4 linked regions of the Homo sapiens genome follow. The protein of the gene in region 2 interacts with the protein of the main gene of each other region in a pairwise test. Each region holds a gene or a part of one and is shown on either strand. Other genes may lie near its edges. The genes, in order: CDC73, CSTF2, TLE3 and METTL27.

The links.
Region 1: the proteins of CSTF2 (region 2) and CDC73 interact in binary tests that used the Homo sapiens proteins (3 or more experiments, as listed by UniProt).
Region 3: the proteins of CSTF2 (region 2) and TLE3 interact in binary tests that used the Homo sapiens proteins (3 or more experiments, as listed by UniProt).
Region 4: the proteins of CSTF2 (region 2) and METTL27 interact in binary tests that used the Homo sapiens proteins (3 or more experiments, as listed by UniProt).

The regions. Positions count from the first base shown.
Region 1 is NC_000001.11:193,125,031-193,132,060, reverse strand, and holds part of CDC73 (parafibromin), read right to left. Parts: intron 6,950-7,030; coding exon 6,844-6,949; intron 1,888-6,843; coding exon 1,818-1,887; intron 1-1,817.
Region 2 is NC_000023.11:100,823,375-100,830,404, reverse strand, and holds part of CSTF2 (cleavage stimulation factor subunit 2), read right to left. Parts: coding exon 6,977-7,030; intron 6,520-6,976; coding exon 6,400-6,519; intron 6,286-6,399; coding exon 6,148-6,285; intron 3,772-6,147; coding exon 3,648-3,771; intron 2,366-3,647; coding exon 2,303-2,365; intron 1-2,302. UniProt on the Homo sapiens protein: One of the multiple factors required for polyadenylation and 3'-end cleavage of mammalian pre-mRNAs. This subunit is directly involved in the binding to pre-mRNAs.
Region 3 is NC_000015.10:70,052,894-70,059,923, forward strand, and holds part of TLE3 (transducin-like enhancer protein 3), read right to left. Parts: intron 6,568-7,030; coding exon 6,517-6,567; intron 5,923-6,516; coding exon 5,770-5,922; intron 5,399-5,769; coding exon 5,266-5,398; coding exon of another isoform or gene 5,257-5,265; intron 4,766-5,256; coding exon 4,566-4,765; intron 3,482-4,565; coding exon 3,405-3,481; intron 2,406-3,404; coding exon 2,156-2,405; intron 1,793-2,155; coding exon 1,545-1,792; intron 482-1,544; coding exon 334-481; intron 1-333. UniProt on the Homo sapiens protein: Transcriptional corepressor that binds to a number of transcription factors. Inhibits the transcriptional activation mediated by CTNNB1 and TCF family members in Wnt signaling.
Region 4 is NC_000007.14:73,834,090-73,839,546, reverse strand, and holds the end of METTL27 (methyltransferase-like protein 27), read left to right. Parts: intron 1-509; exon of another isoform or gene 510-687; intron 688-4,466; coding exon of another isoform or gene 4,467-4,544; coding exon 4,545-4,804; 3' UTR 4,805-4,957; downstream 4,958-5,457.

The sequences.
Region 1 (7,030 bases), on a different chromosome or scaffold from region 2:
TTTATTCAGTTAAGAACCTACCATGCACCACTATTGTAAATGCTGGGTATTTAACAAGACAAACAACTGTCTGTCCCCTTAGGATTTACCTTCTAATGGGAAAGACAGACACTATGTACATAAACAGATATATAATTTCAGGTCAATGTATGAGATCTGGTGAAAAATAAATCAGGATGGCACTATATAAAAACCACAGAAGGAGGAAAGGAATACTATATTTTCGATAAGAGTGGTCAGAGAAGTCTTCTCTGATGGAACAACATTTGGAAAAACACTTGAGCACAGATCTAAATGAAATAGTAAGCAAGTGAGCCATGTGATAATGTAGAGAAAGACAACTCAAGATAGAAAGAGAAAGTGCAAAGGTGCTAAGATTAGCATAGCTAAAAGACCAAAAAGACTGACTGTTATGAGCAAAGGAAGAATGGTAGAAGATGGAGTCACAGAGATTTAGGCAGAGGCAAGATGACTGCCAGGGTAACAAGTATGAGTTTTATTCTAAGAGTGATGGGAAGCCACAGGTGAGTGACACAATCAAGTTTATATACTTTTTCAAAAGCAGGACACTCTATTGCTAAGACTACACTATAGGAAATAAAGAGTGGGGACCTGTGAGGAAGCTATACAATAATCTAAAAAGCAAGGATGAAATAGGGCAGGTAGAATGGTAAGAAGTTGTCATACTTTTAAAAAGAGAAAAAAACAACTTGTTGATAGAATGGATGTGAGATGTGACAAAGATGTCACCAAAGTTCTGGCCTAAGCAACTGCAGGAAGAGCGTCTCACTACCCCTTACTAAAGTGGGAACACTGAGAAAACAACAGACTTGTTTTTGTTCTGTGTGAGGGCAGAAGGGAAAGAGGGAATCAGGCATTCCATTTTCAGTGTTAAATTTCAGATGCCTATTCAACATTCAAGGAAACATGTTGACAGTAAATTTATAAATCTGGTGCCCTGAAAGAAATCAATGCTGAAAAAAACACTTGAAATTTCATCAGCATATATATGATATCTGAGCCATAAAACTGAAAGAGATCACCTAGAGAATACAGGTTAAAAGAAAAGATAAAAAAAAAGATCAAGTCTTGGAAACTTCAAGAATTAGAGGTCAGGTACAGAAGTAACCAAAATAAACTGAGAGGTGAACAACGAGTAGAAAGAGAACCAAGAGGCTGGTGTTCCAAATGCCAAATGAAGAAAGGCTTTCAAAAATGAGTGGTCAACAGTATCAAATGCTGTTGAGAGGTCAAGTATGGTACAAGAGACCAAAGGATGTAGCAATCCTTAAATCAGTTTTGACCTTACAAGGAGTGATTTTAGTGGGATGGTAAGGATGAAGGCCAGACTAGAGTGGCTTCAAGAAAGAAACAAAGGTAAAAAAGAAGCAATGATACCACACGAACTCTTGCAGAATATTTTACAGTATCAGGGAGGAGATAAATGAAGCAGTAGACAGTAGGAATGTGGGATCAAAAACATTTTTTAAACATGAAATCTTACTGTAGGTATTCTAAAAGGGAATGATCCAGAAGAAAGTAGAAAACTGATGATGTCAGAGAAACAACAATTTACGAAGACAAAGTCTTTGAGACTGTGAAAGGAGATGGAATCCACACACAAGGAAGGGGTGACTGGCCATAAGGGCAAAGACAGTGCATCCACTGTATAAGAAAAAGGTGAGCACATGGACAAAAATGAAGGTAGGTTAATTTTTTGGTGGAAATACAAATTCTCTTCCCTCTAATCATTATTTCATAGGGGAAAAAAGAAACAATGTCTGTTTAAGACTGGGAACAATTTAAAAAGTACTCACACGCTTCACCATTGAGATATCCAAGTAGATCTTTTCGATCAGGTCTTCTAACCACAGGAATATTTTCAGTCTAAAACCAAAATTTTAAATGAGATATGAAATGAATAACAATGATACACAACTTAATAAATATTAACATGTAATGTCTGAATTTTATTCCAACATATCTTGAAAAAACGTATTTTAAATCACATTTGTAAAAAATGACTAGGCTAAAAGAACCTAATAAAAATCCTGAAAATTTATTAAACATGTTAGTTACTTTTAATAATTTTCTTACAACTTGATATTAACATGTAATGTCTGAATTTTATTCCAATATATCTTGATACAATATATTTTAAATCACATTTGAACAAAATGACTAGGCTAAAAGAACCTAATAAAAATCCTGAAAATGTATTAAACATGTTACTTTTAATAATTTTCTTGGCTGGGCGCGGTGGCTCACACCTAGAATCCCAGCACTTTGGGAGGCTGAGGTGGGTGGATCACCTGAGGTCAGGAGTTAAAGACCAGCCTGGCCAACATGGCAACACCCCGTCTCTACTAAAAAGACAAAAATTAGCTGGGTGTGGTGAAGCATGCTTGTAATCCCAGCTGCTCAGGAAGCTGAGGCAGGAGAATCACTGGAACCCAGGAGGCGGAGACAGGCGTTTCAGTGAGCCGAGACTGCACCACTGCACTCCGGCCTGGGCAACATAGAGAGATTCCGTCTCTAAATAAATAAATAAATAAATAAATAAATAAATAAATTTCTTTTTGAAATTCCAGGAAGATATACAGAAAATAATCATTAGAAATAAAGCAATGACCAGGCACAGTGGCCCACACCTGTAATCCCAGCACTGCGGGAGGCCAAGGCGGGCGCATCCCTTGAGGTCATGAGTTCAAGACCAGCCTGGCCAACATGGTCAAACTCCATCTCTACTAAAAACACAAAAATTAGGCAGGGCGCAGTGGCTCACACCTGTAATCCCAGCACTTTGGGAGGTCGAGACGGGTGGATCATGAGGTCGGGAGTTCAAGACCAGCCTGAGCAAGATGGTAAAACCCCATCTCTACTAAAACTACAAAAATTAGCTAGGCGCGGTGACAGGCACCTGCAGTCCCTGCTACTCGGGAGGCTGAGGCAAGAGAATCGCTTGAACCTGGGCGGCAGAGGTTGCAGTAAGCCGAGATCACGCCACTGTACTCCAGCCTGGGTGACAGAGTGAGACACTGTCTCAAAAAAAAAAAAAAAAAAAAAATTAGCCGGGCGTGATGGCAGAAGCCTATAATCCCAGCTACTCAGGAGACTGAGGCGAGACCCAGTCTGAAACACAAACAAACAGTGCAAGAAAAATTGGTAGCTAACAGATTTCAGTTTAAATCCTTTGTCACTTTATATGTGTAACAATGAAGTAACAACAAGAACCTTTAGTATCTTTGGCCAATGACCTTATATTGAATACTTATTATAATTTACTGCACCAAACATTCTGCACTGACTCCTCAATGATTTAGATAAACTGTATTTAATCACTTAAAAATTAACCTTTTATTTTAAAAAGGTCAAGCTAAATTTTAGTTTCTCCTTATGAGTTTAAAAATTTGAGTGCAGAGTTTTTTTGTGCTTGTATTCTTTTAAACCAGCCTAGGCCAGGCATGGTGGTTCATGCCTGTAATCCTAACACTCTGGGAGGCCAAAGTGGGTGGATTGCTGGAGCCCAGGAGTTCGAGACCAGCCTGAGCAACATGGAAAAACTCCAACTCTACAAAAATATAAAAGTTAGCCAGGCATGGTGGCAAGCGCCTGCAGTCCCAGCTATACTCCCAGCTACTCAGGAGGCTGAAGGAGGAAGACAACTTGAGCCCGGGAGGGTAAGGCTGTGGCAAGCCAAGATCCTGCCACTGCACTCCAGCCTGGGTGACAGAGCAAGACTCTGTCTCAAAAAAAAATAAAAAATAAAAATAAACCAGTCTATATGGAATATCATAAACAGTTAAAAGATTTGAGTTAATTTTAAGTTACTGTTTCTAAGTCTAATAACTTACATCATCATTTGGTCACTACTGAGTTATGTACACATCACAATCCACTGAAAAAGATTACATCTACTCACACTAAAATAGGAACTAAGGATCAGGAATCTGTTTTCAGAGTGGTCTGCTCAGCCGGACGCAGTGGCTCACGCCTGTAATCCCAACACTTTGGGAGGTCGAGGCGGGCGGATCGCGAGGTCAGGAAATCAAGACCAACCTGGCTAACGTGGTGAACCCCCGTCTCTACTAAAAATACAAAAATTAGCCAGGCATGGTGGCGTGTGCCTGTAATTCTAGCTACTTGGGAGGCTGAGGCAGGAGAATCCCTTGAACCCAGGAGGCGGAGGTTGCAGTGAGCCGAGATCACGCCACTGCACTCAAAAAAAAAAAAAAAAAAAATGAGTGGTCTGCGCACAGGAAAGAGCAAATAACACAAAGTAATTAGGAGACAACAATCTCGAATTCATAGAATTTTGGAATTTTAGAATCCTACTCTTTCAATCTGGCAAATACTTATGAAAAATGAGTTAAATCTTATGCAACCAAGGGTCCCAAGGTCCACAGTAACAATTACAGCTATCAGTTATATGCACAACCATTTCCCAAAAACAGAATCTATAAATCTAAGCCAACTATCTGAATCTTTGTTACACTAAAATGAATATATCCAACAAAACACTGTAAGAACTACCTAATTTAGTTTTTAAAGATCTGAGTTAAAATAACCTTAAAGACGGAGCTGGTGCTATTTTTTTCCCCTTATTTTCCCAAGTAGTCCCACTCTAATTTTATTTTTTTAAATATGTAACATAAATATATATTTCTTACTCAGGAAAGCAGAAGCCTTATGGTTTAATACAAAGCCCACTAAGTGACGGGATACTTTCTCAATTGCTATAATCACACACACACACACACACACACACACATTTTTTTTTTTTCCCTGAGACAGAGTCTTTGCTCTATCACCCAGGATAGATGCATTGGTGTGATCATGGCTTACTGCAGCCTCAACCTCCTGGGCCCAAGTGATCCTCCCACCTCAGCCCCTTGAGTAGCCAGCTGGGAGTATAGGTGCACACTACCACGCCTGACTAATTTTTTTTATTTTTTGTTTTAACAAAGTTTCCCTATGTTGCCCAGGTTGGTCTTGAACTCCTGAGCTCAAGTGATCCTCCCACTTGAGCTCAGCCTCCCAAAGTGCTGGGACTACAGGCATGCACCACCACACCTGGCTTTTAGTTGCTTTAGACAACAAGTTATTGTTTGAAAGATACATAAGCCAGAAACCTTAACTATTTCTAGTTGGGAGGGAGGTTAGAGTTATAGAAGTTAAGTTTCACACAGCTTAATGTGATCCAGCAACGGTGTTAGGTAACTCAAAAAGCAGCTCCAGTGATGACAGACACAGTGATATTTTAAAAAATTGTTTTAAGAACTATAAGAAAAGTTTAAGAAGATTGTTTTAAGAACTATAAGAAATGGGAAAAAGTAGTTATTTATAAATACATTTCATACTTAATTTTAAGTGTATACTTGTAAGCAAAAGCAACAAATATTAAAAGCAGACATTTAATTATTTCAATTATATCTTCAAAAAATTTTATGTTCAACTCTACCAAAAATAATCTGAGGGAAAAGCTCATTTAAAAAAATTAAATATCTTTTAGGCCATTTTATGTGGGCATTATAGTACTTTTCCATGTCATACAGCTATCCTATCCAAATAACTCTGAATCTTATTTACTTATCAATTATAATATACTGCTATAATTTAGGTCTTAATGATACTTCCCTACAGATGAAGAATCTCATCATCATAGTTTATGAAATTAGTTCTTTTCAAGTTGTTTCCAAATATTTCCTCTGAGTAATAAATTTTCAAACACTGAGAAAGCAAGCAAAACTAAAAACAAATGAACTTCTCCAGAGTACTAAAACAGCTGCACAAAACTGATTAAGAAACAATTTTTTTAAATGTCTGCTAATCTTAATCCTTACAACCAAAAAAAGTTTTCTTGAGATTAAACTAGAGTTCTGAAGTAACAGGGTCCTTCCACAGGCTTACAAGTTTTTCTAAACATCTCTATAAATACTTTTAGCGTTTCGGGTTTTCTTTTTCTTGAGATGGCATCTCACTATGTTGCCCAGGCTGGTCTTGATCTCCTAGGCTCAAGCAACCCTACCGCCTTAGAGTCCCAAGTAGCTGGGATTACCAGCGTGCACTAAGAAGCCTGGCTCTATAAATCCCTTTAAAACTTCCTTTGTTATAAACATTACCCACACTTTACATGAAAAAATATCACAGATTAAAAAGTCTGTGTAAGTCACACAGTCACCTAATTTTGACTCTCCTGGAGACACTCATACAAACCTTTCATTCTTTTGATTTGAAACCCATGAGGGAAGCTATCCATTCCAAATGATACCTACTACCACGAAGCCAAAAAAAAAAAAAATGTGTTAATACAAAAATTAGCCCGGCATGGTGGGCCATGCCTATAGTCCCAGTTTCTCAGGAGACTGAGGTGGGAGGCTGGCTTGAGCCCGAGAAGTAGAGGGTACAGTAAGCCGAGATCACACCACTGCACTCCAGCTTAGGCAACAGAGCCAGATCCTATCTCAAAAAAAAAAAAAAAGTTTTAAAATGAATTATTGGCCAGGCACAGTGATTCATGCCAGTAATCCCAGCACTTCGGGAGGCCGAGGCAGGAGGATCCACTGAGGGTAGGAGTTCAAGACCAGCCTAGGCAACACAGCAAGACCCCCTCATCTTTAACAACAACAAAAAAAATTAGCCAGATACGGTGGCACAGGCCTGCAGTCCTGGCTACTTGAAGGCAGAGGTGGGAAGATCACTTGAGCCTAGGAGTTCGAGGCTGCAATGAGCTATGATCACACCACTGCACCCTAGCCCGGGCAACAAGGCCAGACCCTGTCTCTTAAATAAATAAAAATAAAACTGATAAATAGATAGATAAGTAAAATGAATTCTACTTACAGCTGCACGTCGGACATAAACAGGATGAGAAAGGTGCACGTTATTAAGTAGAAATAAAATGGAATCCAATGTGTAGTACTCTCTGGGTTGGCCTTCCTTTCCAGTCCTGAAATAATTAAGGCAAGATTTTTTTTACTGACAATTCTAATTCAACTCTTCAGGCTGGATTCATTTATATAAACAACTT
Region 2 (7,030 bases):
AAAGAAACTGCACTGAATCTGGAAGGCAAGATTCATTCTGAAACGGCCATAACTGAAGTACGGCAATTCTATTTTTGTCACATTTTAAAGCACAAAAATTTCTGCTGTCAAAAATGTATCAGATGGGGAAATGCAGTGAATGAACTTTACATGATGAAAGAGAATATCACTCCACAAGAAATACTCTGCCACAGCAAGTCTTTGATAATAAACATCATGACAACAGCAAACAAAGACTAATGAGATGACATGGGAACCGACACTAAACAAACATGGCAGGGAAGCAAGAAGTATCTTCTCAAACATCTCCATCTCCTTTCAGCATTAAAAGCAGCATGGATTTCAGGAAAAGTAAGACAAACTAGGCACACACGAAAAGACTCTTGCTTCCTCTGCTGGGTACTGAAGGAAACTATAAAAGAAAGCTCATCTCACTTAGTCTCTGCATGAAGACATCCTGGAAATACCCTCAAAACATGAGTCACTTCCCTTTGCCAATTTCTGACAAAAAGGTGAAGATAACTATAATAGGAAGATGTCTTGTGCAAGTATGCGTTAAACAGCTAAAACCTGATGGATTGAGGGCTGGCCCCATGACAGGCAGAAGTATGACTGAAACCCTAATACCTTCTCATTACTGCAGAAATACTCTGGGGAACATATATGATCTATTGACAGTGGTGCGGTGGGGATAGAGGGATGTACAATAGCACAAAAGCATTGGATGCTTAGAGAAAATATGAGATATTTGGCCAGGGAGTTTGTCCTGCTGTCAGACTTCTAACAAGAAAAAGTTAATTCTGTCACTTCAGCAACCAACCCCAGTGTAAAAACCACAGGCTTGTATATTAATGTTTATGTATGTATGTGTGTATATATATGTGTGTGTGTGTGTATATATATATATTCTTTGAGACAGGGTCTTGCTCTGTTGCCCAGGCTGGAGTGCAGTGGTGCCCGATTATGGCTCACTGCAGTCTCAACCTGTTGGGCTCAAGTGATCCTTCCACTTCGGCCTCCCAAGTAGCTGGGACCACAAGTGCACACCACCATTGCCCAACTAGTTTTTGTATTTTTTATAGAGACGGGGTTTTGCCATGTTGTCTAGGCTAGTTTCAAACCTCTGAGCTCAAGCAATCCACCCACCTCAGCCTCCCAAAGTGCTGGGATTACAGGCATGAGCCACTGCGCCTGGCCAATATTTTGCTTTTTAAATGGGTTCCACTTATAAACCATATGCTACAAAAGAAAAAACCTTAAGCTTCTCTATGCTTGTCCAAAGCAGTCTTTCCCATCATTTTATTCCCAAGGAATAAGAGTAGAAGACACTGAAGAATATGCTTGGAAGTTAACAGAGGCAGTGTGGAGTGACAGAAAGAGGACAGATTCTGGAGTCAAAGACTTCTGAATCTTAGCTCTGCCACTTACTAGTTGGAAGAGAAAATAAGAGCACCAAATCCAGTCCACATTACTCATACATTAATATTTACTTACCTTGTCCCCTTGAGAAAGTAACTTATTCTGAGCTTCCAACTCTTTGCCTGTAAAACTGAGGTGCTGCCACCTAACTCACAAGATTATTTATGAAAATTAAAGTGCCTGGCATATAGTATGCACTCAGTTCCTTCTCTTTTCTTACGATCTCTCCTCCTAACATTGTTTCCAACTGAACCACTGCACTTTCTTGTCCTTCAAACTCCAGTAACATGAAGAAACAACATGGAGATTTTGGAGCAGCAGCTACTGTTGTATATAGCAGTACAGCCACGGTACAACATATGTTCATTAAGTAGGCGTTACAGACCTATGATTCCCTCCCAGTTTTCTCTGGGGTTTAAATCTAGTCTTCTACATACCCAGCCACATATTTACATGCTCATTATTAAAATTCCTTACTCAGTCAACAGATATCCATACAGGGAGAGAGAACATGTCAGTGGAATTATTAGACTAGGAATCAGGAAACAAACGATCCACTTGCTTCATTATCAATTCTTGTAGAGCTGGACTCTGAATCACCAGGTGGAAAGTCTAGACCAGCACTGTCCAATAGATCTTTTTACGATGATAGAAATGTTCTATATCTGTAATGTCCTGTATGGTATCCACTAGTCACCTGTGGCCACTGAGCACTTGGAATGTGGCTATTGTGACTGAGGAACTGAGTTTTAAATTTTACTTAATTTTAATTAACTTAATATTGAAATAGCCATGGGTGGTTAGTGGCTGCCATATTAGATACTGTGGATGTGGAACACTTCCATGACCAATTAACATTAGTCAGACATTAATATTTATTTACCTTGCCCCCGTTCCATGGACACTGGTCCACTTCCTGGCATTCCAACCTGAGCCTGCATTCCTCCTAGAAGATAAAGGGCAGACAAGAAAAAACACCAATTAGAACAGCGGAAAAGAAAAATTAGAACAGTGGCTGAGTTTACAAATTTCCTCATTCTGCTCCACAAGCAGAAACCTACAAAGGAAGATATTCAACAATGCAATGAGAGAGAAGATGGGGTTTGTTAGTATATTTACAATTTGTACTTTATGTTTCAGTGACAGAATAGTGAGTTCAATAAGAATAATTCATTTCATTGGTTACCAAACTCTTGGCAGGAAGCTCTTCTATAATACAGGAAAACAATGTCACTTACCCATGGACCTCCTGTCATGAAAGATAATTTAAATACAAGTATAACTCTATTAGGATAAAGTAGATACATAACAATCCTAAAGTAGATACAAAAAATTCCTGAGTTTGCAGAAATTTCTTCAAAAAATCTCTTCTTCCATTCCTCATCAACTTAGCTCTGCAGACTGGATTCTCTACAGAACAGAACAATTTAGAATTAAATCATTCTCCATGAGTAGTGTTGTACTCAACCTACCCTAGATTAGATAAATTAACAAAAACCAAGTTTGTTACATAAAAAAACTTTAAATATTGGTAATACATCATGTGTTCATACAGATGTTTCATATGGGGAATCATTATTTCACTCAATCTTCTTAGTTACAATTGTTGAACAAGGAACAGTTACAAGTATATGAGCAATACTCTTATTAATTGCCGATCTATACATTTTCAATAAATGTACATAGCTTTTAAATTTCTCTTTTTCCCTTTTGTTGTTTGTTCTGATTATGTTTGTTAAAATACAATTTTATGTCAGTTTAATATGCTATAACAAATGTGACCTTGTATTTTTTTGTCTGTTTTCTTCATGAGCTTTTGAACCTAATCTGACAGTTCATTCATATTTAGCAGAGTAACAACTACATTAGTTTTTATTCCTTCCATCTTACTCTACATTTATTATTACTTATTTTACACTGTCTCTTACTTTTTTCCTCTTCTCTATTTTTGCTGGCTTGATTTTGTTTCCACTCATTCCATTTTCCCCCTTGTTAACTTGGAAGTTTTACTATGCTCTTTCACTTTACTGTCCCTTTCCCTGTTCTTATAATTAGACATACAGGATTTAACGTAAGAAATCTACTATTTCCTCCACCTAAGATATATACTTTCTAGCTGTGTATTAATTTTACCTAAGGATCCCATTATCATATTTGGCTGCACTGCAACAGTGGCTATGACAAAACTTTAGCAAGTACTGAAATGGTGAAGACTAAATGAAACTTACCTCCAGGAGCTAAGGAACCAGGGCCAGGTCCTGTGACAGCAGCTGGCATTTGCCCTGGTGCTGGAACTCCACCCTGCATAGAAGCTTGCATCAGAGGAGGTGCGCCATTGACATGCATTCCACCCTGACCAAGCAAAAAAAACAGAGTATGTATATGCCTCTGTGGATACTCAATATACTAAGTCTACGACCTTAAAAGTCCTCTTCAAATGAACAGCCCCAAATACACTACTAAACATCCTTTTTGTATGGCATGTCTTATGCAGCATTAGATTTGTCACACACTTTAAACTCCACAGAAGCAATATACGTCATGAGCCTGGTTATATGGAACACGGTTAAGATGGAACATATTCTCAATGTAGAGATTGACAAGTCTTATCTGTGTGGCAAGGCAGCACATAACACCTACTGTTAACTTCATGATTGGGGCTGCCAATAAGAGTAAAAAAAAAAAAAAAAAAAAGCCCTAAACCCAAGAAACATAAAAGGAGACTGGGACTCTTTTAAAAAAAACAACTGCTGGTAGTCCACATTTTTAAAATTAAATTTTTTTTTTAATTTAACCAATCTTTTCTCACTCCTGTCCTTAGATATAATTCTGGTTTTGGGGGAATGTGAAATATATTTTTTTAAATGCTACATTAAAACTCGTTGAGAAAAAGAGAATGTCATCTTTTCATCTGTGCATTCCCCAAAAAACTGAGTAGTCCCTTGAATTAGAAACAGCTCAATAAATAAAGAATAAAAGCCAAGTTATATAAAAAAAATCACATATACGTTTAAGGAACACAAAACTCTACAAAAGAAAAGGAAGAGCTGTATAGGAAAGTAGTTAAGAGAAAACTGGCTGTGAGGTCAGATAAAACCAGGTTCAGAAATAGATCTGCCACTTATAATTGTGTCAATTTTTGGACCAGCTAACCTCTCTGGGCCTTAGCTTTTTTTTTCTATCTCTGAAAATGTATTTATTTATTTAGAGCAGGGGTTGGCAAACTATGACCCATGGGCCAAATCGGGCTCACTGCCTGGTTTTATAAACAAACTTTTAACGGAACACAACCACACACACTTGTTCACTTATTGCCTATGGCTGATTTCATACTACCATGGCAGAGTAGCTGTGGCAGATCCTGTGACTTGCAAAGCCAAAAATATTTACTGTCTGATCATTTACAGAAAAATGTTTGCTGGTCCCTGCCCTGTACCTCTGCCAACCTGAGAGATGAAAAATGGTAGCTTATTGTAGTTTCTATTTACATTATCTTATAACATTACATATATAAATGATAATTTATTACATTATCTTATTTTGAAGTTGAATAAATTTTTATATATTTATATTTCTCCTTTTGTGAAATATTTATGTCTATTTCCCATTTTTCTACTGGGTTATTGGAAATTTTCTTACTAATTTATAGGAGGCCTTTTAAAATTTATTATGAAAAATTACAGATATACAAATCATATAGAAAATAAAATAGCCACCCAGCTTAGGAAATAAATAAGTAAATAAAATAAACCAATGGCCTGTACGGTCTTCCCCAATTGCATCCTGTGCTCTCTTCTCCTTTGATGACCACTAAGACGTCTTCTTAATGTTTCAAAATTTTATATGAATCATTACATACTCAATATATTATTTTGCAACTCATTCCACATATTTTGGGGATTTATGCAGAAACATATATCCTACATTTCGGGAATGCATCCATATTCACTTAGTTTCATGTCCGTATGTCACTGTTTTGGAGTTGTGTTGATATTATGTATCCTAGTTCATCTTAACTGCTGTATGGAATTATGTTTTTCAAAGTCATTCATGTTGATACGTGTAGTTTATTTAACTGTTGTACAGTATTTCACTGGATGAATGTACCACACATTTTCTCCATTCTTCCACTGACGTACATTTAGGACATTTCCAATTTTTCACTCTAAGGCAATAAACATTCTTGTGAATGACTATGGGCTCTTTATTAGTCTGTTTTCCATCACATGTGTGGTAAATACTTTTTCTCAATTTGTCATGTCTTTGATACTTATTTTTTTCTTTATATAGAAATTTTTTAGTTTTCAAATGTATCAATTTTTTATGGCTTTAAGGTTTTGTGTCATGCTTTGAAAGCAAGCTTTACTTTTTTCATCAGTAAGAATGGAGATAATAAGAGTGCCAACCTCATACAATTGCTTTGAGGATTAAATGAGATAATGCATATGGAATAACGAAGTGCCAACCACAGTGCCAGGCATGCACATACACACAAAGTTAGCTTATAAGAAAAGGGCATACGGGAAGGATCTCTTTGTTTTACAAACTTGGAATCGAATCTATATTCATTCAGATGTCATGTGCTCTGCAACCTGGAAATTGCTTTTATGCCTGGAAATTGAAATTATCATCTCTGGTTCCTGACCATTCTTCTTTCAATATATTCTCCTAAAAAGAAAATGACATTCTAAGACAGATACAAAAAAATGTTAAGGGATAAAGCCCTACCAAAGACTGGGCCTGAGGGGCCTGAGGATTCTGCTGGTTCATTGACACATTGGATCCTGAGCCAGGCCCAGCACCATGGACTGGCTGAGGGTTGCCTGCAATCAGCGTTGGGATATTTGTCTGGCGATGCAGAATTTTCTAAAAAGTGAAAAGACAAACCTATGAGCTGTCTGTTTAACAAAGCAATCAGGTAGTTCCTATCCCATTCAAGGTTTACCCGACCATTTCCATAAAAGAACCAGAAGCACTCACCAGGGCAATTTCCGGATCCACAATTCTCATCACTACCTGTGCTTGCAGCAAAGCATAAGCCAGTTGAGGGTTCTGAAGTAACATGTTCCGTGCCTCCTGGGGACTATTCTGGACACAGAGCTGAGAAGATAAGCAGATTCAGGTTTAATACTTATGACTTAGAAACTGATAGTGATTTAGAGCCATTCCCCTCTGAGAAATGTAATATTCAAGAGGCTCTTTATCATTAGTTTTTGCATGGCACAAAAAAACCTTGGTCATGGCAGGCAAGAGAAGAAAGAGGCATTTCAAATACTGTGATATTATCATTTAGGAAAAAAGCCAAATTTTAATATCTACATCTGACATCTATGGGCCACAAAACTCCAGCTGGATTGTTTGGATAGCTGTGTTTGTGTACAAAAATAGAAAGCTCTTTGTACAAAATGTAAAATATACTGTGTACATACAGAATATTGAAGGTGCAAGAAATGGTGGTCTACAGACAATTTCTATTTGAGCTCAGGGAACTAATTCAAGTAACTCCTTGAAAACCTGATGTGATTTGCTTTATTCATAACCTAATGCCTCCTCCCACCTTCATTTGTTTCATCAGCTCAAACATCTGCTCTGGTGGAAGGCTGGCAACTGC
Region 3 (7,030 bases), on a different chromosome or scaffold from region 2:
AGAGGGATCATTTCAGGTGCCCACATCAGACCTAGGAGGGTGCTACTATTATTTCCATCTTGTGAATGAGGACGCCGAGGACAAAGTGCTCAATAGCAGCAGAGAATGAATCGAATTTCCACAGTTGGGCCAAATGTGTCCAACCCCAAGGTCATCTCCATCTGTTTCACTGCTGCTTCCTCCAGGAAGCCTTCCCAGATGGCTCAGGTTGGTCCCAAGTCTCTTGGCCGTGGCCACTCTGTGAGGGTCCCTTTGTCCCTGACCCAGCCACTGGGGCCCCGGAGGGAGGGAACACACTGCTCTTTGGGAAGGGAGGAGTCTTGGGCCGCACACCTGGGAAGTGAAGTCATGCTGCTGTAGCTGTCGGCCCTCCCGCAGGTCCCAGGAGCGCACCGTGTTGTCCAGGCCCCCTGTCCACAGTTTGGTGCCATCATGGGAGATGTCTATGCAGCTGGCCCCATCTGTGTGGCCCTGGAACTGCCTACGAAAGCCAAGCAGGGAGGAGGGTGAGTCCCGGGAACCACAGACTGCCAGGTGGCGGCCATCCCAGGGGCAGTCTGAGCAGAAGAGAAAACTGAGGCCCAGAAGAGTGCACTATGCGCATGGTCCCTTAGCGAGCTTGCAGCAAAGCTAGCCCCGGCCTCTTTCCAGTTCCAGGCCTCTTTCCAGTTCCACGGAAGGGTTTGCCCAGGGACAAGTCCCCTGGGAAATGGGGGGGGGAGGTGAAAAAGGGACCTTGCACTAGCCTTCTGAGACTGAGTCCCTCCAGGGTGGGCCTCTGGAGGAGGTGGAGCTGGAGGCTCAGGAAGGTGAGGAAGGCAGGAAGGCCCTGGGGAAGCTACGTGTGAGATGACTGATAAAGAGAATGCAGGGCCCCACTGCCTTTAGGACACAGCTCCTTAACTCGCACTCCACACGCCCTCAATTTGCCCTCTTAATCTATCTCTTCATCCTGCATGAACTATGGGGCTGAGGCCATCCATGAACACGCTGAATAACACACACAGCCCATGTATACAAGAGTCAGCTGGGCCAGGCACCCGTCTGCCTTTGCGCTGCGGCACAGTCAGAGGAAGATGCTCCACTGTCACTGTTTTACACAGGAAGAAACTGAGCCGCAGGGGTTCAGCGACTTGCACTAGGTCATAGTGGAGGCAGGATTCAAAGCCAGCAGTTTTGTCCTGAGGCTTGTTTAGCTACCACGTGATGTGGCTTCCCAGTCGGGTCTCCCTAATCTGGTCTCTGGGGCTCTGCTCCCAGACTCTCTGCTTGCTCCACTAATCTGACCTCCACTTCCCCAGACATGCTCCAGCTCCACTTTCTTCCCAGAGCCCTCTCCAACTCCTGGGCCCAATGGCCCTCCCTCCTCTGTCCCTCGCATAAGGCAGGCGGAGCTGTCTTTTCACCTGTGCATCCCTCATCCCAACGGTTCTGGCCACCCCACAGTGCCTCAGACAGGGCCAAGGTCACAGCAAACAAGACCAGGCAGGATGGGTAAAAACTTCCCCAGGACGAGGCACTAATGCTCCCTCCTGCCGGCTCACCTGACCAGGGTCTGGTTGTGCAGGTCCCAGACAGCAATGTTCCCATCGCTGCAGCAGGAGAAGCAGACTTTGGCGTCAGGGCTAATGGCCAGGGCATAACAGGCGGGAGCCGAGGACGTCAGCTCGGCCTTGATGCGGGGCGTGGGCGAGGCCAGGTCCCAGATGGTGAGCGTGCTGGCCTCGCCGCCCACGATGAGCGTGCGCCCATCAGGGAGCAGCTTGCAGGAGCGGATGTAATTGTCCCTGTTCTGGAGGGAGAAGGGGCAGGGCTGAGTGCTGCCTACTTCCCCTCCTGGGCACCAGGAGAGTCCTGTCCAGCAACACCGAGCACCCTCACCAGTCCTGCTTACAGCCTCCCCCTATACCCAGCAGCTGCCAGGCTGTCCCCATTCCTCAAATTCACAACCCTTTGATCTTTCATGAATACCAGGAGGTCAGAATCAGCCCCACACACAGAAGGCACAACTGAGGCTCAGAGAGGTTAGTCAGCTTGCCTAAAGTTGCTCAGCCAATACGATGCTGAGCCAGGCCCTGGGGCTCTCCCCTGTGGCCCAGGCTGCCCCATCCTCCTACACCAGCTGGAGGCGGCGCAGCAGCCCTGGGATTCTCACCAGGCAGTCCAGCTGGGAGATGGGGCTCTTGCTGCCTGGCTGGCTGATGTCCCAGATCTTCACGCAGCCCTTGCCACCTGTGTAGACGTGCCTCGTGGGGTTGCTGATGGTCACGGCACACACCACCTCCCCGTGGCTGAGTGTGTTGATCTGCCGGGCGTGCCTCGGGATGCCGGGGCCTGCCAGGGCGTCGTGGGGGAAGGGCACGGGCTGCATCTGCCCATCAGCACTCACATGGAATGAGTACGCTCTGAAAAGGTGAGAAACCGTCACTGCTGCCATCCACCCCGGCCCCTCAGAGTTCCCATAGGCCTGGCCCAGGTCATCTGCACTGCCCCCGACTGGCTGCCCTGCCTCTAGCCCCCTCTGCTCTGAAACCATTCGAACCCAGTAACCCCATGTACTGGGATGGCTCCATCGAGGTAGACATGATTAACAGACCAGCTTTGATTTTTACACCCAGTTATATATCCTTGCTTCAAATCAGACCAGAAACCCACAGGTGTCCTGGAATGCCCTTTCCCACGATCCATACATTCCCCCAACATGCCAACCCTGGAAAGGGCCTGGCTGAAATGCCACCTCTTGCTTTAGGAGCCGGTGGTATTAGGGAAGGGATCTGCTTGCCCCTGCAATAGCAAATGGGAAAGTCCATGTCAGAGCCTGTGGTGAGCCAGCCTGGCCTGCCTGCTGTTTCAGGCTCTGGTGGGTGCCCTCTCAATCAGCATCTAGATTCTCGTTGACAATTAGAGGACTGTGTCAGGCAGTGTCTCGGCATTATCTGTAGGCTCAATCTTTTAGTTTCCTAGCAACCCAAGGAAGTGAAGGGCCGGGGAGAGTGTGCCCTCCAGGGGAGGGAAGCACTGCTGACAGGGAAGGGCCTGCGACCAGCGGCACTGGGGCCTTCCCAGCAGGTCGAACCCAAAGGAGTCGGCAAGGCCCACCACAGCTCCAGGTGACTCGGTGAGGAGTGTTCCTTCTCTCCCAGCCCAGTGGCCATGTACTTAGCTAACTCCATGGCTCCTCTGTCGGAGGGAGCTTCTGTGGGTGCTCAGAAGTGTGGCTTGGCTACAGTTTCCTGGGGTTGCAACCAGCCCTCGGTGCCTCTAGAGGGACAGATACCTTTCCAAAGGGAGGTGCACCAGGGCAAACCCTTGGTCAGGGGATGAGGGGCGTTGTTGGAATTGGGGGTAGAGTGCTCTCTCCTGCCCACCCTACAAAGCATGCAGTAAGTATAGCCAAAGCTTACGGTTTTCCTCCAGGAATGGAGGCCAGGCTTGAGGGGAGGCCTGTGGCCCGCATCGGGGGGTGAGGGTCAAAACCAACCTGTAAAGCAAGGCAAGACAGCCCTCCATCAGCCGTGCTGCCACACACCCCCACCCCTGCCTCCTCCACCACCCACCCGGGGTCCTACCTGCACGGCTCTGCCACTTTGTAACCCAAGAGACAAGCTGAGCAGAGCAGAGCCCATTGATTCAGAGGAGACACAGGCCCAGGACAGCCCGTGGCAGGGAAGGGGTGACAGTGCAGACCCCACTGTGAACCAGCATCCTCCCTGTTCTGCAAGGCAGAGCTGGCCCTGCCCTACTTCTTTCCTCTCCTGTGGTCCTAGTGGGCCTGCCAGTGGAGAGGAGGCCACCCCAGGTCCAGGAGGTAAAAAGGAAAACTGTCTCCTGAAAAAGGGCCCCTCTCCCCGCCAACCCTAACTCTTCTTTTTATTTTTATTTTTTTGAGATGGAGTCTCGCTCTGCCGCCCAAGCTGGAGCGCGGTGGTGCAATCTTGGCTCACTGCAACCTCTGCCTCCCAGGTTCAAGTGAGTCTCCTGCCTTCACCTCCCGAATAGCGCCTGCCACCACGCCCGGCTAATTTTTGTATTTTTAGTAGAGATGAGGTTTCACCACGTTGGCTGGCCAGGCTGGTCTCGATTTCCTGACCCCAGGTGATCCACCCGCCTTGGCCTCCCAAAGTGCTGGGATTACAGGCGTGAGCCACTGCGCTCGACCCCTAACTCTTATTATTTATTCACCACAATAGAAAGTCTTGTACAACCAGTCCCATCTACGAGACCCCTGCTCCATGGACATCACCTGACTTGCCCTGGGATTCCTACCCCCCAGAGCTGGGAAAGCCAGGTGTCAGCCCCGTTTTGCAGACTAAAAGGGAGGCTGCCTTGCATGAGGTCACAGGGCGGCTCACAGGCCAGTGGGGGATGGAACTCAGGTCTGCTGGCCCCAAAGAGTGTACCCTTCCAGCCAAGTCTCAATTGTTTCCGATACACCTTCCCACAGGGGCAGCTGCCTGGCCTTGAGACCCTGAGGGGCCCCTTTAGCATGTGGGGAGCACCCGTCCAACCACTGGCTCCCCACACCACGCCCAGTCCCCAAGAAAGGAGCCAAAAGGTCTACGTACAGCTCCAAAGCTCACCATTGGCGATCGGCCATAGGCAGCGGCTGCAGCAGCGGCGGCGGCGCTCATCTGGGGTGGGATGTTGTGGAGGCCGGCGTAGGCGCCAGGACTGGTGAGGGAGCCGTTCATCTCATGGTGGCTCATCATGGCGAAGGGCGCCGCATAGGAGCTGGTGATGGAGATGGGCGTGCGCAGAGCCGAGGCTGCGAGGGGTGGGCGTCAGGGAGGTGGGCCTTAGGTGGATTGGGACATGGCCATGGCCGCCTCACCCAGCAATAACCCTCCCTGCATTCTTAAGCTGCCTGCTCCAGGCAGTCCTCTCAGACTGAACCCACCCAAGTGGGATCCCTGCCTTCAGAGCCAAAGAAGCTTAGAGCTTGGCAGATGCACCCACCTCTTTTTACAGAGCAGGATATGGAGGCCCAAATGGGCTTGCTTAGAGCCTCACTGGACTAATGACAGGGGTGGGAACAGATTTTGGGAGCCCTGACCCGTCTGATGCTGCTTTCATGTCTGGCCCAGCAGGGGTCCCAGAAACCCTGGTGTCACCTCCTCAAATCTGACCGTGAAGTCCCCAGGGGCAGGCCCTGGGAGACACTGCCTGTGCTCTATCCCATGCGTGTGTGTCACCCCTGCCCTGGCCAAGAGCAGACCCCCTCCCCCCAATCAGATTAACCCAGCCCATGGTGCCTACCCATTATACCTATCGGGTCCATGCCCGGAGGTTTACCCGGCATCGACCTGAGCCCTGGGGTCGTGCTGGTGCCTGGAGTTGGGGCGTCGTTCCTTGGGGTTGGTGTGTTGGACTTGAGCCCAGGGGTGGAGGATTTGTCGTTCTGAAGAGGGGAGATGCAGAACAAGGGAGGCCATGAGGCTTCCATTCTCCTAGGAGCCGGGCACAACTGGTGCCGGTCCCAACGTGAAGCCCAGAGCCAGACCCTTATGAAGCTTCTGCCGAACAGCCTCTCAATCCTTGCCCAACCTTGTTTGGCAGGGACTGGGGTGATCACTCCCATTTTACAGACGTAGCAACCGAGGCTCAGAAACGTTAACTCATTAGCACAGGCCCAGCAGGCACAGAAGGTAAACCGGGGCCAATCACCCACCCAGCTTCTCCCACTCCACCCCTCTGCCTGCCAATCGGCACCACCCCAGCTCCAGTCCCTGCCGCTCCCTTCCCACTCCCTTCCACCCAGACCCCACATACATGACCAAGGTCTTTGGTCTTGGAGGAAGGTGTGCTACTGGAAGAGGCCACCGAGGCAGGGCTGGTGGGGGCATCTTTTTTCAGGCTACGGGCCTTGTCCAGCCCATTTTCAGGAGGGGAGTGTGCCGGGCTGACCCGGGGCGTTGCGGGGTCCTGAAAACACAAGTGATGCAGAGATGCACTGAAAGCAACAGCCAGCCTCGAGGCTTCCCTGCTCTGGGAGTGGGAAGAGAGAGGGCATGGGCGATGGGAAGACGAGCTTGGCTGAAAGACTGGGGGCCCCACAGTGAGGAAAAACTAGCTCTTAACCATCTGGTCTGACTGAGGCCTAGGGAGGGTGGAAGGATGGTCTTCCCAATGTCAAACACAAGTTCAGGACTTCAATCAGCATGGCTGGGTTTGGCCAAATGTAGATGCTCTCCAGCTCCTCCTCAGGCCCCTGAGGCTGAGACCCTGGGGGGACGGAGGATCACGGGGAATAGAAGATGGCCCCTACCTGGGATCTTTGGGGGTGTCTCTCTGGAGACCCATTGCAGGAGGCCCTCCAGGCCCATAAATGCCCAGACACCATGCAGCAAAGCCCTGCCCTGCTCCTCTTGACCCCCTGAGACCCCAAGACTGGAGGCCTTGTCTCCCTGCTCAGGCTGCCAGTAATACTAGAACAGACAGAATAGATCCCACCCTGGGGAGGAATAATTCCAAACCATGCCAAACCAAGAGCCCCCTTGCGACCGGGCCTGCCCATACCTCATTGGAAACATCCACCACCAGATCATCACTCTTGTCTCCATCACTGTCCTGCAACCAAGAGAGAAGCCAACTGGTCAGTAAGAGGCCACACTTTCCCCACCCCTGACTGAGCCCAAACCACCCTGTCCTTCTACTGGCCAGGACCTGAAGCCAGGCCAAACCCCAAAGTCCATGCTTTCTACTCCAGCCCTGCCCTTCAACAGGCTCCACTCCAGCTCAACACGGTCTCCCCGTGAGGCTGTCCCCTAGCCCAGGCCCCGGGTTACTCCACTCCTGTACCCACTGGGCAGCCGCACTGACACCCGCTCCATCATAGCAGTTCTAAGCCCCTGCCCCCACAGCCTGCCCTTCTGCTTCTCTCTGAAGCCAGAACCTTCTTCCCAGCTGGTTTTACATCCACCATCCTTCACAGTCAGTGTGCTGCTCTCACCTGGTCATTCCCACCCATCTGTGTGGGATAGTAACTTGCCTCCTCTCACAGAAACACAGCTGAGTGTCCTTTGGGTGCTCA
Region 4 (5,457 bases), on a different chromosome or scaffold from region 2:
TCAGGGGAGATGAGAGCTGTGAGCACCGTTTGTAAACTTTGCACATTGCGCTGCCCGGGCAGGTGTGTTTCCCGTCTCCTGCTGTGTTCTTGCTCAGCGCTTTGTTCTGCTCTGGGCAGAGGGCTCAGACCCTGCCCTCTGGGCCTTGATCTCCAACCCACTGGGGCCCAGGAAGGGGCCAGAGAGCACAGGGCCTGGTCAGAGGTGGCCCCACGAGAGCCGTGAGTGCTCACTGCTCCCAGAATTTATTTATTTATTTAATTTGAGACAGAGTCTTGCTCTGTCACCAAGGCTGGAGTACAGTGGCACAATCTCAGTTCACTGCAACCTTCACCTCCCAGGTTCAAGAGATTCTCCTGCCTCAGGCTCCCAAGTAGCTGGGATTACAGGAGCCCACCACCACACCCAGCTAATTTTTGTATTTTTAATAGAGATGGGGTTTCATCATGTTGGCCAGGCTGGTCTTGAACTCCTGACCTCAAGTGATCGCCCGCCTTGGCCTCTCACAGTGCTGGGATTATAGGCATGAGCCACTGTGCCTGGTCCTGCTCCATGAATGTAGAGAAGAGAGGCATTTCCAAGACCAGGTGAGGAATCCACATGGGGTGCACCCTAAGGCAGAAAGGAGAGGGGCTGAGCATGAGAACGAGGAGGCGCTGGCTGGCTGCAGGACAGGAAATCATAGAGGTAAAAATGCTTCCTCTCCCTCCCGTCTCTGCCAGGCCCAGCAGAGGCTGTGGCTAAGCCTGGGCAGGTCTGGGCAGGCATCTGGGGAGCCCTGAAGGCTGACAAATGCAGGGACACGGATGGGGTCAGCTGGAAAGGTCGAAGTTGGGCCCAAGAAGACAGGAACTTTCTACTGGGTGAAGCAGCCAGGATCGGACTTCCTAGCCCAACCTGTGCTTGCTAAGCCCTTCAGCCCCATCAGGCTGCCCATGGGTGACAGTCTCCCCTGCTCCGGAGCCTCTCCTCTCACTGCGCTCCCTTCTATCAGCAACACCCTGCTTCTCCTTACCCCCTCCTCCAGGAAACCTTCCCAGACCAGTCACTTGGGCTTCCCCATCTCTCCTTCTCAGTGCACTTGGGGCCACCCTGGGCACGCACACTATAGGTGCCTGGACCTGAGGTGACAAGGCCATTCAGCCGGCACTTACTGTAGGGCACTTCAAACACACATACCAGCCTTCCTGTGATGTTAGATAATCATCCTCTCTGTGCCAGCTGGGAAACTGAGGCCCAGAGAGGTGAAGGGATAGCCCAAGATCCAAAGCCCACATGGGAACTTTCTTCCTGTCCATTCAGACACAGTCACATCCTCCAGCAGAGGCGTGGGTGAGTGGTGAGTGGTGAGGAGGGTGTCTCCTCAATCCAGGAGAATTACGTCAAGAATTCCCCACCAGGCACAGTAGCTCACCCCCATAATCCCAGCACTTTGGGAAACCGAGGCAGGAGGATCCCTTGAGCCCAGGAGTTCAAGAGCAGCCTGGACAACATAGCAAGACCCCATCTCTACAAAAAAAAAATGTTTAATTAGCCAGGCGTGGTGGTGAGCACCTGTGGTCCCAGCTACTCAGGAGGCTGAGGTGGGAGGATTGCTTGAGCTCGTGAGTTGGAGGCTACAGTCAGCTATGATTGCTCTGCTGCACTCCAGCCTAGGAAATAGGGTGAGATCCTATCTCAAGAAAGAAAAAAAAGGGGGGGTGGGCAGGCACAGTGGCTCACGCTTATAATCCCCAGCGGGCAGATCACCTGAGGTCAAAAGTTCGAGACCAGCCTGGCCAACATGGCAAAACCCCATCTCTACAAAAAATACAAAATAGCCGGGCGTGGTGGCACGTGCCTGTAATCCCAGCTGCAAGGGAGGCTGAGACAGGAGAATCACTTGAACCCAGGAGGCGGAGGCTGAAGTGAGCCAAGAGCATGCCATTGCACTCCAGCCTGGGTGACAGAGCAAGACAGGGTCTCAAAAAAAAAGAAAGAAAGAAAAAGGAATTCCCAATGTAAAAGACACAGAAAGACTGCCCTGGGAAGGAAGCTGGAAGAATTTCTTTTTCTTTTTTTTTTTTTTTTTTATTGGAACATTAATTAGGTTTTATTTTCACTTTTTGTTTCCACAGTAACATGTATGGGATTAGGTTACAGTGTTTATTTGTCCCCAATCTTTTATTTATTTATTTATTTATTTATTTATTTATTTATTTTTAATTGATTGACTTTTTATTTTTTTTTATTTTTTTTAAATTTATTTATTTATTTATTTATTTTTTATTGATAATTCTTGGGTGTTTCTCACAGAGGGGGATTTGGCAGGGTCATAGGACAATAGTGGAGGGAAGGTCAGCAGCTAAACAAGTGAACAAAGGTCTCTGGTTTTCCTAGGCAGAGGACCCTGCGGCCTTCCGCAGTGTTTGTGTCCCTGGGTACTTGAGATTAGGGAGTGGTGATGACTCTTAACGAGCATGCTGCCTTCAAGCATCTGTTTAACAAAGCACATCTTGCACTGCCCTTAATCCATTCAACCCTGAGTGGACACAGCACATGTTTCAGAGAGCACAGGGTTGGGGGTAAGGTCATAGATCAACAGGATCCCAAGGCAGAAGAATTTTTCTTAGTACAGAACAAAATGAAAAGTCTCCCATGTCTACTTCTTTCTACACAGACACGGCAACCATCCGATTTCTCAATCTTTTCCCCACCTTTCCTGCCTTTCTATTCCACAAAGCCGCCATTGTCATCCTGGCTCGTTCTCAATGAGCTGTTGGGCACACCTCCCAGACGGGGTGGTGGCCGGGCAGAGGGGCTCCTCAGTTCCCAGTAGGGGCGGCCGGGCAGAGGCGCCCCTCACTTCCCGGATGGGGGGGCTGGCCGGGCGGGGGGCTGACCCCCCCCACCTCCCTCCCGGACGGGGCGGCTGGCCAGGCAGAGGGGCTCCCCACCTCCCAGTAGGGGCGGCCGGGCAGAGGCGCCCCTCACTTCCCGGATGGGGGGGCTGGCCGGGCAGGGGGCTGACCCCCCCACCTCCCTCCCGGATGGGGCGGCTGGCCGGGCAGAGGGGCTCCTCACTTCCCAGTAGGGGTGGCCGGGCAGAGGCGCCCCTCACCTCCCGGACGGGGCGGCTGGCCGGGCGGGGGGCTGACCCCCCCACCTCCCTCCCGGACTGGGCGGCTGGCCGGGCAGAGGGGCTCCTCACTTCCCAGTAGGGGCGGCCGGGCAGAGGCGCCCCTCACCTACTGGACGGGGCAGCTGGCCGGGCGGGGGGCTGACCCCCCCACCTCCCTCCTGGACGGGGCGGCTGGCCGGGCGGGGGGCTGATGCCCCCACCTCCCTCCCGGACGGGGCGGCTGGCCTGGCGGGGGGCTGACCCCCCTACCTCCCTCCCGGATGGGCGGCTGGCCGGGCAGGGGGCTGACCCCCCCACCTCCCTCCCGGATGGGGCGGCTGGTGGGGCGGGGGGCTGACCCCCCCACCTCCCTCCCGGATGGGGTGGCTGCCGGGCGGAGACGCTCCTCACTTCCCAGACGGGGCGGCTGCCGGGCGGAGGGGCTCCTCACTTCCCAGACGGGGCGGCTGCCAGGCGGAGGGGCTCCTCACTTCTCAGACGGGGCGGCCGGGCAGAGATGCTCCTCACCTCCCAGACGGGGTTGCGGCCGGGCAGAGGTGCTCCTCACATCCCAGACGGGGCGGCGGGGCAGAGGCGCTCCCCACATCTCAGACAATGGGCGGCCGGGCAGAGACGCTCCTCACTTCCTAGATGTGATGGCGGCCGGGCAGAGGTGCTCCTCACTTCCTAGGTCGGATGGCGGCCGGGCGGAGACGCTCCTCACTTTCCAGACTGGGCAGCCAGGCAGAGGGGCTCCTCACATCCCAGATGATGGGCGGCCAGGCAGAGATGCTCCTCACTTCCCAGACGGGGTGGCGGCCGGGCAGAGGCTGCAATCTCGGCACTTTGGGAGGCCAAGGCAGGCGGCTGGGAGGTGGAGGTTGTAGCGAGCCGAGATCACGCTACTGCACTCCAGCCTGGGCACCATTGAGCACTGAGTGAACGAGACTCCATCTGCAATCCCGGCACCTCAGGAGGCCGAGGCTGGTGGATCACGTGCGGTTAGGGGCTGGAGACCGGCCTGGCCAACACAGCGAAACCCCGTCTCCACCAAAACCAGTCAGGCGTGGCGGCGCGAGTCTGCAATCACAGGCACTCGGCAGGCTGAGTCAGGAGAGTCAGGCAGGGAGGTTGCAGTGAGCCGAGATGGCAGCAGTACAGTCCAGCTTCGGCTCAGCATGAGAGGGAGACCGTGGAAAGAGAGGGAGAGGGAGACCGTGGGGAGAGGGAGAGGGAGAGGGAGAGGGAGAGGGAGAGGAGGGAGAGGAGGGAGAGGAGGGAGAGGAGGGAGAGGAGGGAGAGGGAGAGGGAGAGGGAGAGGGAGAGAGCGTCCCCAATCTTTTAAGTCGAATTTCTTGCCTTGAAGGGACAACCATCCCCAGCAGAGATGGCCCAGGACTGTGGCTCCTGCCCCTCCCCCACCTCACCTACCCCTCTCCCCCAGGTGGGCTGGTGTGTCTGACCACCAGGACCAACTCGTCCAACCTTCAATACAAGGAGGCTCTGGAGGCCACCCTGGACAGGCTGGAGCAGGCTGGGATGTGGGAAGGCCTGGTGGCCTGGCCTGTGGACCGCCTGTGGACCGCTGGGAGCTGGCTACCTCCGAGCTGGAGGTGGTATCCGGCATCTCTGCCAAGGATGGCTTCATCTCCGGCATTGTCTACCTGTACCGAAAGTGGAAGGCGACCCAGGTTGAGGAAGTGAGATCCAGCCCCCAGCCCCCAGCTGGCCCCTGACTCCATGTGGCCTTAGCTGGGCCCATCTGCTGGGCCTCCTCTGCCTCCCCTGTAAAATGGGACCTCCGAACCAACCCTGCCCCTCAGAAATGCCCTGCCTATTAAATGAGCTCCCAGAAAACAGTGGCATCTGTTCCTGTGGGTTCCAGAATCGAGACGTAGCAGGGTGTGGTGGCTCACACCTGTAATCCCAACAATTTGGAAGGCCAAGGCAGGAGGATCTCTTGAGACCACGAGTTCAAAACCAGCCTGGGCAACATAGTGAGACCCCTATCTTAAAGAAAAATTGTAAAAATTAACACTTTGGGAGGCCGAGGCGGGAGGATCACTTGAGGTCTGGAGTTCGAGACCAGCCTGGCCAACATGGCGAAACCCTGTCTCTACTAAAAATACAAAAATTAGCTGGGCATGGTAGCACACCCCTGTAATCCCAGCTAGTTGCGAGGCTGAGGCAGGAGAATTGCATGAGCCCAGGAGGCGGAGGTTGCAGTGAGCTGAGATGGTGCCACTGGGTGACAGAGCGAGACTCTGTCTCAAAAAAAAAAAAAATTGGAAAAATCAGCCAGGTGCCGTGGGTGCATGCCAGCTATTTGGGAGGCTGAGACAGGAGAATCACTTGAG